Linked DNA regions of Homo sapiens: region 1 is linked to region 2. Evidence: fine-mapped expression QTL. Tissue or cell type: T cells. Region 2 holds a variant in brackets; the other region holds the start of a gene. All regions are shown on one strand. Distances are between the middles of the regions.

Evidence for each region. PIP is the estimated chance that this variant, and not a neighbour inherited with it, causes the effect.
Region 1: it holds the start of SASH3, and the variant in region 2 is fine-mapped to the expression of SASH3 in T cells (TOPMed, PIP above 0.99).

The regions. Positions count from the first base shown.
Region 1 is chrX:129,775,060-129,783,238 of GRCh38, reverse strand. SASH3 (SAM and SH3 domain containing 3) reads right to left here and starts at 3,290. Exons shown (of 8, transcript NM_018990.4): 1 at 3,085-3,290. The coding sequence starts at 3,141. LOC124905215 (a long non-coding RNA gene) reads left to right here and starts at 705. Exons shown (of 2, transcript XR_007068328.1): 1 at 705-776; 2 at 2,960-4,664. RefSeq lists enhancers at 1,333-1,382, 1,493-1,672, 2,940-2,999, 3,050-3,129, 3,380-3,539 and 2 more.
Region 2 is chrX:129,740,082-129,748,260 of GRCh38, reverse strand. XPNPEP2 (X-prolyl aminopeptidase 2) reads right to left here. Exons shown (of 21, transcript NM_003399.6): 2 at 6,080-6,153; 3 at 4,190-4,300; 4 at 2,995-3,058; 5 at 1,921-2,025; 6 at 1,580-1,666; 7 at 508-654. Among named protein-coding and RNA genes, the nearest start is that of XPNPEP2, 5.2 kb to the right of the region's middle. The variant C/T (reference allele first, on the strand shown) is at 3,093.

The sequences.
Region 1 (8,179 bases), 35 kb before region 2:
GAATGAAAGTTAGAGACGTTGAGAGCCTGATGATGGGATGGTGGGTGGGGGAGTAGAAAAGGCTATGGAAGGCTCTTGCCCGCCAGGCCAAGGGCATGTATCCTGTGGGCAGTGAGGAGCCACTGAAAATACAAAGTGCATGCTGGCAGGGTGTGGGGGTCATACTAGAGGTGTGCTGTAGGAAGGGAGCCATGGAGAAAGTGGGGATGTGGTAGAGTAGGAGCATCCTTAGGGGAACCAAGTCCAGGAAAAATCCCTCTCCACTTCCTATACCCCAACACTGGCCTTTGGGTGAAATCAGATCAAAGGGCTTGCAGAGCAAGAACTTGAAGGAAGTGAAAGTCTCCAAAGGGCAGCTAAGAGGTCTGTCTCCCAACCCTGGGGCCTCTCCAATCCTTCACGATCCATGGGAGGCGCCATGTCCTAGCCCTACCATTCTAGAGGGCCCGCACCCTCCTCTGCTCTGCTGGCTGGAAGGTCACTCATTCCACAGCTATCTGGGTCTGCCCCACGGAGCTCTCCTGCTGATGGGTTGAATCTTTTATGCTCATCAGACTCTTCTAGCGCCTTTGAGATCAACAAGGGGACAAGAGAGTGGAGAGAGAAGGGGTCAAGATTCTGGAGTCAGACAAATCTTGGCTTGGATCCCTGCTCGGCAGCTTCCCAGCTGTGTGACCTTCAGCAAGTTGCTTCACCTCTGTGAGCCTCAAGTGTCAAATAGGGATAATGACAATATCTGCCCCTACCTCACCAGGTTGTCGTGGGGAGTGAACAAGGTAAGAGATGCACAGCACCGTGCCTGGCATCCCATGAGCTCTCACTCTGTGGTGGCTCTTAGTACTATTAAGTCTTGTGTTCTCTGTGCCAGCACTGGGGGCATGGCTCATTCTTCTTTGCAGTGTCTCCCTATCCCCACCCATGCCTACAGCAGGCACCCCCTTGTGTGGTATGCACGTGCACACTTGTGACAGGGTACTCTCACATCTATTCTTTTGGGTGATCTGTACAACCTCTTGAGGGGGGCAGATTAGGAGTTATCCTCCTTTTCAGAGGCGAGGAAACTGAGGCCCAAAGAAAGTCAATGAGCTGTCCAAGGTCCTACAGCTAGAGCGTGGTAGGATTCCAGCTCAGCTTTCTTGCCCCCTGTCTGGCACATTCTCCATTGGCAGGCCCAAGAGGAGAAGCAGGGGCAGGAGAAAGAGGCCTCTCTTGCCTTTGTGCTTTCCTCTCCACCACGTCATCTCAGCCTCTGAGAAGAAGGGACTAGCAGTGATTCAGCCAGCCCGCTGCCTCTGGGCCTGGGGAAGATGCTCTGTACCTTCTGGAAGCTTGGCTTCTGGGGGACATTTCCATAGTCTGGGGCTAGCAGAGTGTGTGGAGGCAAGCTCATCCCAGCTCTGGAGGCTGGCACCGGCTCTGGCAGGGGTTGGGGTGGGGTTTGCCTGGACTACTCTCCCCGAAAGGACCCCTTCTCCTGGGAGAGACCTGGGGAAATCCCAGGGGCCCACTTGCCTGCCGAACACAGAATCTGGGTAATTGAAGCTGGGAAAGAAAAAGGGGACTTCTGGCTTCTGTGTGCCCCTAGGTACGTCTTCCTGATGTGGCACAGGGTCCCAGTGTCAAAGTGTCAGCTCTTTCTCACACTTTCCTCCAGCTCAGCGCCCCTGTGGTTTGAGGCCTAGCAGTGTCTATAGAGCAATCTCTGTTTCCCACCCCCACCAGCCAGAGAGCAAGGGGAAGTGGCCCTGCTCTCTTAGGAGTGGCAGCCAATGGCAGTCCTGCTGGGCCTAGCACCCTGCAGGGTTTGGACGGGGATGACAGAGCCCGTGTGAAGATTCATGAACCTCCCCCCTCCCCCGCCCACCACCACTGCAACCTTAGAGAAGCAGCTGGGGTGGGGAGAATACAGCCGGAAGTGGCAGCCACCCCAGGACCTGAGAGCTGGGGCAGGATGCACACCCCACTGCCCCGAGTCTCAGTCTTTCAGCTGCCTTGGCCTCCATCTCTGAGCTACTCCCCTGACAAGGGGGATCCACCATAGGGCACCTGGGCTGAGTTCCAGGGAAAATTGGCGGGGGATAGCCTGGGCCTCTTGGACCTAGTTCAGGCCTGCTTTGGGACTGTCCTAGCATCCCATTGGATGTGTAGGATATACTTGCTGATTGTCTGGGAGAATCCTTCAATTGAATTAAAGAATTAGGTCTAGAAATCCTCAAACCCAACCAAAGAAATCTGGAAATCCTCAAATTCAACCACAAAATCCTAGATCTGGCACAGCCTTCAAGGATTCTTCCAGTCCGGTCTCTGCCCCAGGGGGATGAACACCTCAGCCATCCATGACAGCTGTTTTTCCTCCTGGCCTTTAAAATCCTCCCTCCTCAGCCTTCACTCCTACTCACCACCTCAACTTAATTTCTCATTCCCCACCCAGGAAGAACCTGTATGCCCCCTGCATCCCACTGCACTTCCGGATGCCTTTTCCCCCAAGACTGGAATGGCCTCAGGCCCCCATCTCCAGGTTGGCTCCATCTCGGGTAGGGCCTGGGAGCTACCACAGAGCTGAGCCAAGTGGGCAGGGTCTGGGCCATGGCCAAAGTGGAGGAGGGGGTGGCAGTCCTGTGAGCATCATGGCTCCAAGCTGGGCAGCCCAGCAGGGCCCTTTGAGTGAGATGGCTCCTGAGAGGCCGTGGCCGGGGCAGAAGTGGCAGCAGGACCAGCGTAGAGGAGAGATAGTTAAGTACAAGCTTAGGGTTCAGCTTAAGCATTGTATTTTGTTATTCTCAAATTCTAGTCTAAGATTCTGGCCCCTAATTTTAGATCTTTTTTCCCATTCTTCTAGGGTTGAATTGCATGACTCTAGATTTCTAAGGATCTATTCTGTAACTCTGTTGCTCCAGAATTTTAAACATCTCTTCTGTACTTCTGTTAACCTTTGGGTCCCTGTCCCGTTGCCTTCTAGGTGAGTGGCCCTCACCTACAGACTCAACATATGGCCTTTGGCTCTTCCCACTTCCAAGAGTCTTGGAAGGGATGGGTCGAGCAAGCAGAGGAAAGGAAGATGTGAGTTCCCAAAATGCTCCTCACCTTTTTCTTCTGAGTGGGCTCCTTCTCACTGGCATTGGAGGGCTTGCGGCGCAGCATGGTCCTCCACCCTGGGAGACTCCGTCCCTGCTCTCCTAGGTGTCAAGATGCAGAGGCCTCTTGCTTAGCCTCACCAGAACTGCCCGGGGGCACGGCATGAACCGAGCCTTCAGCTGCCACTCTGACTGCTGCAGTGGCAGCTTGGGGGTGCGGGCCATGGACACCCGGCAGCAGCAGCATACAGGAAGCCCTGCCACGTGACCTACTCTTACAGCAATCGCAGCCCCTGCCGGCCCCTAGGGAGGAAGGAAGTCCAAGCTTCAGTCTCCAGAGATTCTGATGCAGACGGCTCTTGGGTTGAACAGTCAGAGAAAGTCCCTACCTTGTTGTCTCATGTCGATCATCATCAGTCCTTCTGCTCCATCTTCCTAGAGGTGGACAATCAGCTCGACATTATATGGCGTACCCAAGCCCTTTATCTCACTGACCAGAATCCAGAAACCAGAAGTTGGACCATCTGGCTGCCTGTTGGATCAATGCTCCCGGTCAACTCACGTCTTCAAGGTCGTCACTGCCATCACTACCACTACCATCACCCCTGTGACCATCACCACTGCTACCATCACTCCTATCAATAGCCATCACCATACAGCCATCACCCCTACAGCCATCAGGCCTGCAGCCATCCCCGCTGCCATCAGCACACCTATAGCCATTGTCACTATGGTAATCACCTCTACAGTTGACATCCTTCAGCCATCACCTCTACAGTCATCACCATTGCTGCTATCACCCTTCCAGCCATCATCCTTACAGCTGTCACCCTTCTGGACATTACAGCCAACCGCACTCATGACCCTCTCACCCCTATAACCATCGTCCCTACAGTCATCTCTCCTACAACCATCATCACATCCGTGCAGCCATCAGCCCTGCAGCCATCACTCCTACAGCCATCAGTACACCTAAAGCCATCATCACTAGAGCAGTCACCCCTCCAGTCAGTACCCCTCAGCCATCATGAGTATATTTATCACCACCACAGCTGAAAAGCACTTACAGCCAACTCCACACCTCTAGCAAGTATCCAACAGGCATTTATCAAACACCTATGCAGTATATTCAATTTGTGGGTTGTCTGTGGCAGATTTTAATAACTTTAATAACTTCTTGGTATTACAAAAGCAACTTGTATTTGTCATACAATTTCACAAACACATAAACAAAAAAAATTTCAAAATTTCCCATCATTGTCCTCTACACTGTTTTAAGCATCTATCTACTCTCTGTCTATAAACATTTTTTTTCTTTTTACAAAAATCATACTGCTCAGAAAACAGATAATTGGTTTGGGGAGAAGGGGAGGGGAGAGAAGGGAAGGGAGACATCACACAGGGTAACAGGAAGCTTTTAGGAGTGATGAATATGTTCACTATCTTGACTGTGGTGATGATTTCATGGGGGAATACACATGTCAAAACGTATCAAATTGTATACTTCAAATATGTGCAGTTTATTGTAGCTCCATTATACCTCAATAAAGCTGTTTAAAATTTTTTAATTAAAAAAGGTCATAATTCACACTATTGGTGTCTGCTTTTCACACTAAACACAGTATCTTTTTTGTTTTTTTTTCGAGATGGAGTCTCTCACTCTGTCTCCCAGGCTGGAGTGCAGTGGCGTGATCTCGGCTCACTGCAACCTCCACCTCCTGAGTTCAAGCAATTCTTGTGCCTCTGCCTCCCAAGTAGCTGGGACTATAGGTGCGTACCACCACCCTGGTTAATTTTTGTATTTTTTGTAGAGACAGGGTTTCACCATGTTGCCCAGGCTGGTCTTGAACTCCTGGTCTCAAGTGACCTCTTTGCCTCATCCTCCCAAAGTGCTGGGATTACAGGCGTGAGCCACTACGTCCAGCTGAACACAGTATCAAGATTGTCTCATGCTATGAAATAGTCTTCAACTACGTAATTTATAACGGCTGTGGAACATCCCATTGTGTGGATGTGCCGTGCTTATTTCACCAAGCCCTTGCTGATGAACTTGGGTTGGCTTAAATTTTTAAATTATTCATTGAACATACTTATGGTAAATATTCACATCCATAGTTTTTTTTCTGTAGGGGAAATATCCAGAAGAGGAATTGCTGGGGTCAAAGGTATGCACATTTTTAAGGCTTTCAATTCTGTGGTACTTGTGAAATACTAGGCTTGTCCACCCCTGTTCCCAAGATGTTCTCGTGACTTCCTCTCCGATTCTGCTTTATGCCCTCTGACCATCCAACCTTCAGGGTGAGCTCAGGGAAGATAAGATCTTTCTTCCCTAAGCTGAAACCATACATTCTTTGGCCTACTCAGTCGGCCAGGCAGACTCATGAAAAGATTCCACACCCCAGATCTCCTTCCCACTGGCCTGTGTTTTCCACCCTGAAAGTCCCTCCCAGGCGGCCCAGGGTCACTAGCAAGCGCGGTAACTGGTTAAGGCTTTTCGGCATATACAGTAGCCTGGCAGCCGTGTAGGGGACCCATCGGGCCTTTGGGGCTCTGCGTGACCAGGAGCAGGAGGGCAGCCCCAGAGGGTTCTGGGATTGGGGACGCCGCTGTAGTGGCCTGGGGCACCTGGAGCCAGAGCCGTGAGGGAGGAAGCAGGTCGCAGAATCTTCCGGGCCTGCGCAGCGGCTGCGTCCCTGGCCGCCTCGCAGGATGTGCCCGCTTCCTGTTTGCTCAGCGCCGGCAGCGACAGAAGATCACACACTAACCGCAGAACCTTCAAAGGCGGCCAGCAAACCAGGGCACAGGGCTGGCGAGGCTTGGGAAAAGGCAGCGAGAGGGAGGTGAGGGTGCCTTGGAGAGAAATATGGAGAGGTGACCAGCTCCCAGGACAGAAGGGAGCAAGTGTTTTCAACGGCTTCCTTCGTTCTCCTTTTCAGATCTGTCTCCTCTGTTCAGGAACACCTCCTCCCCGCCACCTGGGGACCGGGGCCAGTGGAGGCGGGGTGTCCAGGACCCCCCATCGGGACTTGCCTTCCCCCAGCTTTTCTCTTCCAACAGATTGCCCTGGCTGAATCCCAATAGGCCAGGTCCTTGCTGGCTAATGACCCTTAAACATGTGTTTAATAGATTTTCCCTTCTGGGTAACATATTTGCATTTTACAGGTTATGTTGTTTGAGGTACGCAGAGCTCTCAGCTAAGGAAGTGATACGAGTCAGTAGTTCAGGGAACAAGGTCACCTTAAACTTGATAATGGGCCGGCAGGCAGAACCTAGGAACTTGCTGTGGGCACAGCCTTGTGCTAGGCCTCGGGAGGAGGTACAAAATAAATAGCCATCAGGGCCCCTTGTACCTGGGAGCTGACATCCTAGGTGGAGTGGCAAGCTTACATTTACCCAGCACTTGTTCTTTACCAAGCACTACATTAAGCACTTGACAGATGTTTAATCCCACCACAACCCCTGGAGGCGAGTAGTTTAATATAAAGACGTATCCAGAAGTATAGATTTGGGGCAGAAGAACCTTGATTTAGCGCCAATACTGCAGGATTGCAGGGTGTGTATGTGTGTGTGTGTGTGTGTGTGTTTTGGGGTTCCACTGATAGTGAAATCAACCTGAACCCTCAGAGGGTGGATGTAGGACTACCAAAGACACAAAGGTCATCGTAGGCCACATTCAGATAAAGCAGCTCCCACACCAGCACACTCCAAGTATTTTTTTAAATTTAATTTAATTTAATTTTTTTTTGAGTCTTACTCTGTTGCCTAGGCTGGAGTGCAGTGACGCGATCTCGGCTCACTGCAACCTTCACCTCCTGGGTTCAAGCTATTCTCCTGCCTCAGCCTCCTGGGTAGCTGGGACTACAGGCGCATGCCACCATGCCTGGCTTATTTTTTGTGTTTTTAGTAGAGACGGGGTTTCACCATGTTAGCCAGGATGGTCTTGATCTCCTGACCTCGTGATCTGCCCACCTTGGCCTCCCAAAGTGCTGGGATTACAGGTGTGAGCCACTGCACTCAGCCAAGAAATTCTTATTTAGTAGATGATCATGAGTGGGATATTTGGGGCAGGTAAGATCCAGACCATGTACAAAAGCATCTCTCACTCTCTGAATGGATATATTTCTAATTTGAGATAGTAAGAGTTTGGATAGTGAGAGATACTTATATCTGGAAAAACCTCCCAAAAGATTCTTTAAGTTTTAATTAATTAATTAATTAATTAATTAATTAATTTGAGACAGGGTCTCCCTCTGTTGCCCAGGCTGGAATGCAGTGGTGTGGTCACAGCTCGCTGCAGCTTCAAACTCCTGGGGCTCATGATCCTCCCACCTCAGCCTCCCGGGTAGTTGGGACTACAGGCACGTGCCACCATTCCTGGCTAATTTTTTTTTTTTTTTTTTGCCTATGTTGTCCAGGCTGATCTTGAACTCCTGGCCTCAAGTGATCCTCCTGCCTCTACCTCCCAAAGTGCTGCAATTACAGGTGTAAGCCACTGCACCCGGCCCCCAAAGATTCTTATTTCCATTCCCCCCAGTCCCCACATCTAGCTGAAAATTATTATACTTCATGGCAGGCAGTGGGCTTTACAACAACCTGGTAAGTCAGGCACTATTGTTATCCCCATTTTCCAGGGAGGAAGCTGAGGCCCAGAGGAGTTAAGTGAATTGCCCACACAGCTAGTAAGCAGTGGAGCCCAGCGTTAAATGCAGGTCTGGTCTTGGCCAGGGCCCACACAACTAACCACTCAGCTGAAGTGCCTCTGATGCGGAGTTCCTGAACGGGGAGGTGAGAGAATTATGGAGCCCTCGGCTTGCAGCCTTCTCTTGGCACCTGATGCTGGTTTGGGTGCCACACTAGGTGCCACAGAGCCACCTTGAAGCAGGCCCAGAGGGGAGTGAACAGGATGGGGAGGACATCTGGAAGTCGCATCACATCTGCAAAGCTGCAATAGCTAGGGTCGATTAAGCGGGGGTGAAGTATAGGGAAGTCGTCAACGTGTGAAGTACTAAACTCCTGTCACATTTAGCCTAGGTGATTGGGGTGGGGAAGCAAGTGGTATGAATGATGGGGAACAGATAAATGGAAGGTTTTAGTATATTCCAAGG
Region 2 (8,179 bases):
TGTGCTACAGAATGACTCTGAACTTAGTTATTTACTTCCTCTGTCCACTCCTGGCCCACCTGACCCCAGCCATCTCACAAATCTAAATTCTTCATCACAAGAGGGTCAGAAGTAAAGGTCTGAATGATTCATTATGGATCAGTCTCTGCCACCAGGCAAGCAAATCATATCATGATTTTTTCTCTCTTGAAAGGGGTTGGATATTTTCTCTCATCTTTCTCTGTTTCCCTTCTTTCCTCCCTTCCTGCTCCATCTTGTTTCAAATCCTAACATTCTTTAACCCAACATTTTCTAAATATGGCCGGAGGACATTTTGATTCAGACTCCTCAAGGGGAGGGGGCCCTGAAATCTGCATTTTAAACAAGCATCCCAGGTGACTCAGGTGCATGCTAAGGTTTGCAAACCACTGCTTTGGTACCTCTGATGATGAAGTTTGCCACCTACGGAATAGCAGCCGGGACCTGCGTTGCTACAAGTTGGGAAGGAAACTGGGCTTACTGAATCACCTGTGAATGCCTCCTGCAGGGCATAAATGGGTTGATTTGGAACCGGTGGCCTCTCTGATCCCCATACCAGGTCCACAAGATTGGTTGTGATGGACACCAGCTGTCTGTTAGAGCCTTGGAGGGCCAGATCATAACTCTCCCAGGTGTCTGCAGAGACAAGAAGGAGTCACTTGTCCCTTGCCCATTTACACCCCAGGAAAAAATTGTGATTCAGGCAAAGTTAGTCCTGGTTCCCTTTGCCTCCCTTTGCAGCCCAGCTGCCCGGAGCCTGCCCCAGCAGCCTGCCCACCCCCCACCCCCGGCATGTATGCCCACGCTGGGGTATGTTTCTCATCCTCTTTCTGCTTTCCAAGCCTAATGCCCTGAGCCTACTCTAACACTGACTGCCACAAATTGGCTAAGCTTGTCTTTTTCATTGCCAGTGGCTGTGGGTGGTCCTTCTCTTGGGCACTAATTATTTTATCAGGGCTTCAGTGTCACAGTCAAAAGGAATGGTGATGTTCAGGCCATTGGACAGGCTGGCAGAGAAGCCAGTTCTAAAGCACAAGCCTTTCAGTACATATTCATGAGGACTCCCCTTTGGGGGAATGGGCTTGCCAGCTGTCTGAGGCCCCAGAACTCCGGGAGTTGTATTCTCAGGGGCCCTTTTTTTTTTAAACTCAGAAGCCCTCCCAACTCTTTTGACCCTTCTAAGCTACCTTCCAGAAGAGGGTTACCATGTGATTCCAGCATCATCATTGGCAGGGTTCCAGGGCACAGAGGATGGTTCTGGGTTCAAGCACATCCTGGCCTATTCATCCACTAGCTCTTTAATGATTCACTGAGTCTTCTAGGTTGGGTCTCTGCACTCATGAATTTTAAAATATTTGTACTGATTCTTTTAAATGTATTTTAATTACACAATCCATGAATACATCCTCATTGCAAAACATTCTGCAACTACAATTTCAAATGCTCTATCTTTATAGTCCCACCGCCCCTCCTTCTACCAAGGTCCATTTCTTTATATCCTAGGGAAGCTGAGTCACCCTCGTTAGCATGGACAAATTCAGGGACTGAAGGAAGAGCATACCAATGGACAAGAGGAAGGGGTCAAAACCCACACGCCCTCCAGCAGGAATCTCGGTGAGGAGCCAGGTGACAATAGGAGTGGTGCCAACTGAAAGAAAGATAGGAAGCAATGCAGAGGTCACCTTCAGGGCCAGCCCCAGGCTCTCCAGCCAGGGGTTCTGTCTGATGGTCCTACCATGTGTGTCTTCCTTGAGATCAGCCTTGAAAGTCAGTGATGGCCTCAAATTTCCTAAGCTCCCCATAGAGGCCCAGCATGGTCTTACATGCACGCTCTCACCTATACCTTCCTGAACCTAGTCCAGGTCCCAAGACTTGGGGAACAAATCCATGCGGCCCTTCTACCTTCCTTATGGAGCTCCCAGTTGCAGTCCATCTGCCGCTCAGCCTGAGTCCAGTAGCGACTGTCGGTCCAGACAGCTGCTTTCTTCATAGTCACCACTGCAGTTCCTGGGGCAGAACAGAGAAACTTGCAGGTGAGGGTGAAGGGGAGGAACGTGGCATTAGCTGATGGATGTGCAATGCAGTGCTGGCTCTGAGAATGCCACAAGGGGCCTCTGGAAAGAGATTCTCTCCTCCATTGGAAAGAAGTGAGGAAGGAGATCTTAAAAAGAGCTGTGGGGGGAGCTGGCAGAAAGGTGTCCTGAATCAGGCACCTCTGCTTTGTGTTGAGGGCTGCTTGTGGACTTTCAGCAGAAGTGAGGTCAACTTTTGGCTGCATGTAGGCGCTCTCAGGAAAGATGGGGCTCAGCGTAAAGACTCGGTGGCTGATAGGGAGGCTAAACCAGAGGCTCAGCTGAGGACTGCTGGGCAAGAATAATCCAGAGACTTTGGCAAAGGGAAAAAGAGCCTACGAGGCACGAGGCAGGGTAGTTTGAAGCCCAAGGAGGAATGTTTGAGGATCAGGAAAGGAAGCTTGGATTTCATTCAATGGGCCAGGATCACGGTGCGAGGCCCCTTCAGACACTGTGATCTCATCAAGGGCTTATATGTTTGTGTCTCATTTGGCCATGTGAAGTGATGTTGTCCGTAAAACAACCGGCAAAGGAAAACTTTGTCTCCAAATGAGCCCTCATGTGAAAGGAATCAGCGGGTTCTTAGCGGTTAGAGGTAGAAGTAGCAACTATTTAGAAACGGAGCCTGGGAGTGCTGGACTGGGCCTGGTTGCAGCAGAGGTAATGAGCACAGGAAGGCAGCCTCTGCCTCATTTCTACACAGAAAGTGGCTGGTGGGCTATGAGATATGTGCCCTGGGGAATCTGATGGTTTTGGGGTGGTGGAGGGAGACAGAGAGAGTAGAAGGGTTTTCTCTACAGTAGGTTCTGGGGTCCCAGATGCTGAGACACTAGCCACATTAGGTCCTCTGTGACCACCTCTGGATCTACCAACAAAAGCAATGGGGCTGGGTAATGATTGTCACCTGCAGACCCTGTAAAGCCTGTAATCCACGCACGCCTCTCGTCATGTTGGCCGATGTACTCGTTCTAGGAAATCAACAACACCATCATTAGCCTTTTT[C/T]GTGGTATCAGATCCCACATGAAAGGCCCCCAACCACATCCCAGTTATTTCTGTCTGTCGGCTCCAACCCCTTGTCAGCTACAAGCCCAAGCACACCAAGTGCCTCTTCCAGGAAGCCCTCTGTAACTCTCCCAGCCTTCAATATCTTCCCTTCCTTTGAGCAACCGTATCTTTTGCAGTTCAACTCCCCCGCCCCCACACTGTTCACACTGGACTCAGTGTAACACTGGACTGTTCTGCAAAGGAGACTTGTTGCCCTGCCCTGCAAATTCTATGCAGTCTAGGGTCCTGTCTTTTGGCTCGTTTGGGTTTTCCCCTCCAGCTAATCCTTCTCCCTCCTGAGTCAAGCACAGTAGACTGGGAACATCATAACTTCTGCAAAGGGCTTTACACATTATCATATTTTGATCCTCATAATCCTTGGAGATAGATCTCATTACAGACCCATTTCTCTTTGCAGAAGAGGAAACTGAGGCTCAGGGAAGTTCAGATACTTACCCAACGTTCTTAGCCCTTCCCAGCATGTGGGAAAATTAATTTAAACAAGCTCATTGACACTAAAAATGCCCTCTCTTCCAAATGGGCTGGTGTTGGAAAGGTGGATGGTGTGGAGGGTGGAGCTAGTGAGGGGAAACGGTGGGATGGGTGCCCCCCTCCACAACCAACCCCGCGCTCCCTTAACCCAGGATTTTGGATTATTTTGCTACTCCATTCCACAGAGTATGGGAAGGCCTGGGCCAGAAGGGAGCTTGGAGTTCTTCCAGCCCAATTTCCAGCCCACCTTCTAACCTCCTAGGGCAGGGATACCCTAAACATTCATTCTGGATCTGCCTTCTGGGAATTGATGAAAATTGATTCTGAAGTTGTTTATAGTTTAATTTCTTGAGGTTAAGGAGGTTTGGCAATGTCTGCCCGCCTATGTAGAGGGATACATTCTTTCACTTGCCCTAAAACTACCGTGTCCATGCTCTCTACTTCCCTCCCTTTGCCCATCAGATCCTTTCTCTGTCTTCATCTTCTGAGTTTTAACAGCTCCTGTTTGTGGTCTCTGACCCAGGGTAGCAGAGAGGGCAAGGGGGAGAGAAGCTGTCTCTTACCATGTGAGCATCTGTGCCTGGGATGATGTAGGCTGAGAGATTCTGGGTCTGCATCTGCTGGCGGAGGGCTGTGAGTGACATTGTGGTATTGACCACAGTAACTGGAAGGTACTGACAGATGACAAGAAGACATTGAGACACAAACAAACAGATACACACGTTGCTTAGAGAAAATGACATCTGGGCCCCTGGCCTCCAGAAGAGCCCCCAGCCTCTCCTGAAGCAGCGGTTGGGGGAAGTTAGGCTGGCCTGGCTTGGGAAGGGATGGGGTGGCAACTGATGTTACTGCTTAGTCTAGATTAAGATGCCTGGGCTGGGTGGAGATGGAGGTGTTGGAGAGTTTGGAAAGGGACCCCTTGTGACAGTAATGGGACCTGAGTCTGGGATATGGGTGTGGGTGAGAACTGCAGGGGTCTGAGCTCTGGCATTGGGCCAGGCCATGCAGACAGTCCTTCTTTGGCTACCTGGGGGTAGGGTTGCCAGATTAGCAAATAAAAATACAGGACACTCACCTAGTTATGTTTGCATTTCAAATAAACAATGTGTAATGTTTTAATGTAAGTATTATATTAAAACATGCACAATTTGGGGCATACTTGCACTAAATTCTTATTTGTTATCTAAAATTCAAATGTAACTGGGTGTCCTGTATTTTATCTGGCAACCTTCCCTTGGCAGGGCTTTTTCAGGTTGCCACCCACTGGTCCCAAATGGCAGAGGAGAGTGAATGAATGCCCCCAGCAGTTTGAGATATTGCCCAGAAAGACCCTTTCCAGACCAGTTCTCTATTTCTTTACAGGTCATTTTAGCTTTAAAACGAAAAGCATGTTTCCGTTTGTGCTGTTTTGCTTTCTACTCCACGATATATCCATGTTTGTTTTAATATAAAAGTAATGTGGTTTGCCCACCCACCTGCCTGCCCCAGGGGTCCCATAAAGTTGATATTGCTAGCAGATGTACTGCGTTTTTCCCATGGCTTACAGTGCTGCTGGCATGCCTACCCCTTAGCCCTACTCTGATTGTAGAAAGAATCACTCTGGTCTCCAGCTAGGAAGCTGACTACCCAAGCCCCTTCTGCTGGGCCTTTTCCTCGTCTGCACACCCTAGGCCTCCCTCTCTTGCCCTTCCGTTGGCTCTTCTTTGGTTTTGGTTTTGTTTTGTTTTGTTTTTGAGACAGAGTCTTGCTCTGTCGCCCAGACTGGAGTGCAGTGGCACAATCTTGGCTCACTGCAACCTCTGCTTCCTGGGTTCAAGCAATTCTTCTGCCTTAGCCTCCTGAGTAGCGGGGATTACAGGCACCCGCCACCATGCCTGGCTAATTTTTTTATTTTTAGTAGAGACGGGGTTTCACCATGTTGCCCAGGCTGGTCTCGAACTCCTGACCTCAGGTGATCCACCTGGCTCGGTCTCCCAAAGTGCTGGGATTACAGGCGTCAGCCACCGTGCTCGGCCTCCGTTGGCTCTTCTAACCTCTGTCTTCCTCCCTCTTCCCTTCTGTGCTTCTCTTTTTGCTGTCACTCTAGAATTTGTCTTTTCTTTCCTCTGCCTGGCCTCAGCCAAAGGCCAGTTAGGGGCCTCCTGCCCTCCTCCCTCCTCCTAGAGGGGTTTCCCAGGCCCAGATCAGGACGGAAGCAGATAACCTGCTGGGGGAATGAATGGGAGGGAGGGGAGGGCACTGATGTGGAGGGGAGGGAGTGGAGGGGGGAGGGGCCCAAGAGTCCGGAAATCAGGAGAAAGCCTGGTAGGAGGAGGGGCTACCAACTGACCCAATGAGGGATAGAGAAGATGATAGAGCAGGGCGGGGGTGCTGCGGTGCAGGGGTGCGTGGGGCAGGGGTGGGGGGGTGCGTGGGGCCAGGGGGGCCGTGCGCGGGGGGCAGGGGGCACTCACAGGGGGGTTGGTGGAACAGTTTCTCACATCCTGCCCTCCAAGGTCCACTGGCTTTGTGTGGCCCCAGGCACAAGCTAGAAGCCGGGAGAAAAATCCAGGGTCATTTGGGGACCAGCTAGTTCCTAGAGAGGGAAGGAGTATCCTCTCAGCCCGCCCCACGGGGCCTCCATCCTTTGAAACGCACGAAGCTGGCCAGCTCTACTTGAGGATAAAAATAATCACATTTCATAGGAAATCAGGCTGAACTGGATAGCACCCTGGGTCACAATCAAAGAAATCTGTTTCATAGACAAGTGATTGCCACTTTTGGATGGGTTTTAGTGCTCATTAAATCAATTTTTCTTCTAATCTAATTGGGTCTTTTCAGGGTTTAGTGAAGTAGAAAAGTTGTGTGTAAATTAAATTTTTGTTATCAAATTTTCTTTGAAATGCTCTAGAAGATCACGCTAAATAATCACCCCACCTTCATTTTAGCCTTTTATAAATCTAATTGTATGATACATTGGGTTGACTTCAATTCAAGGCCTGCTTGCACTGTTTCTTACAGTCCAAATCTTTGCCTATCATTCCAGGCTCATTTTCAATATATTAGACAGAAATCCTAGTCTGCCATGGTGGGGAAAGATGGATTAATTAGTATTTAAAGACACCCTATTATGTGCCAGATACTGAACGCAGCAATTCATCTACAGTATCTCATTTGATATTTGTGACATCACTATGAGGTGGAAATTATTGTTCACTTTCTGCAGAGGAGGAAGTCAAGGCCCAGATAGATTTGGTAACTTGTCTAACTTGTGCCACCAGGAGTCAGTGGTAGAACAGGGATTTGAACCCAGGCCATCTTAATACAAAAGAGGTGAGCGCACTTTCAGTCCTCCCACTCTGCCAAGTATGAGAGGTGGGCCTGAAAAAGGTGATGCCACAGAAGGGACAGAATATATGGAGATCTAGTTTCTAGTTTGGGCTCTGCCCCCAATTTAGAGTGACTCGAGAGTGACCCCCCCCCAATATTCATTGAGCAACCATCTCCTAAGCGCCTACTGTGTGCCAGGCACTGGACTAAGTTCTCCAGGCTCTGGACCTCTGGAAAGGAGGGGCTTGAATTAGACAAAGCGGTCTCTGATAGTCCTTGCCTCTAACCCCCCTGTCTTTTAGGGAGGGATTTCCCTAGATGGTAATGGGGCCCTGAGTGTGGGGAGACATTACACTCCCCCGCCCCCCCTCCTTTTTTTTTTTTTTGAGACAGAGTCTCTCTGTCACCCAGGCTGGAGTGCAGTGGGGCGATCTCAGCTCACTGCAACCTCCGCCTCCCGGGTTCAAGCGATTCTCCTGCCTCAGCCTCCCAAGTAGCTGGGACTACAGGCATGCACCCACCACACCCAGCTAATTTTTGTATTTTTAGTAGAGATGGGGGTTTCACTATATTGGCCAGGCTGGTCTCGAACTCCTGACCTCAGGTGATCCACCCGCCCCGGCCTCCCAAAGTGTTGGGATCACAGGCGTGAGCCACTGCGCCCAACGCCCCCCGCGCCCGCATTTTTTTTTTTTTTGAGATGGAGTCTCCTTCTTTTGCCCAGGCTGGAGTGCAGTGGCACAATCTTGGCTCACTGCAATCTCTGCCTCCTGAGTTCAAGCGATTCTCCTGCCTCAGCCCCCCCTGAGGAACTGGGATTACAAGCGTGCGCCACCATGCCTGGCTAATTTTTGTAATTTTAATAGAGACAGTGTTTCACCATGTTGGCCAGGCTGGTCTCGAACTCCTGACCTCAAGTGATCCGCCTGCCATGGCCTCCCAAAGAGCTGGGATTACAGGCATGAGCCACCACGCCCAGCCACACTTTCGAGTGGGCTGAGCTACAGATGCAAGGAGGGTGGCTGGGGTTCAACACCATGAACGTCCTGTGTGATTTTATCTTGGTCTCATAAACTCAAGGATCAGATGCGACCCATACTGTTCATTTAAGAAAACAAACACCCATTTCTGTAGAAACAGATCCCTGGCAAAATGTTGGCACTGATATGCTAACATAAGAATGAGGACACAGCCAACTTATGTCTCTCTGGACACCAGAATATGCTGTTCTCTGAGGCCAGGGC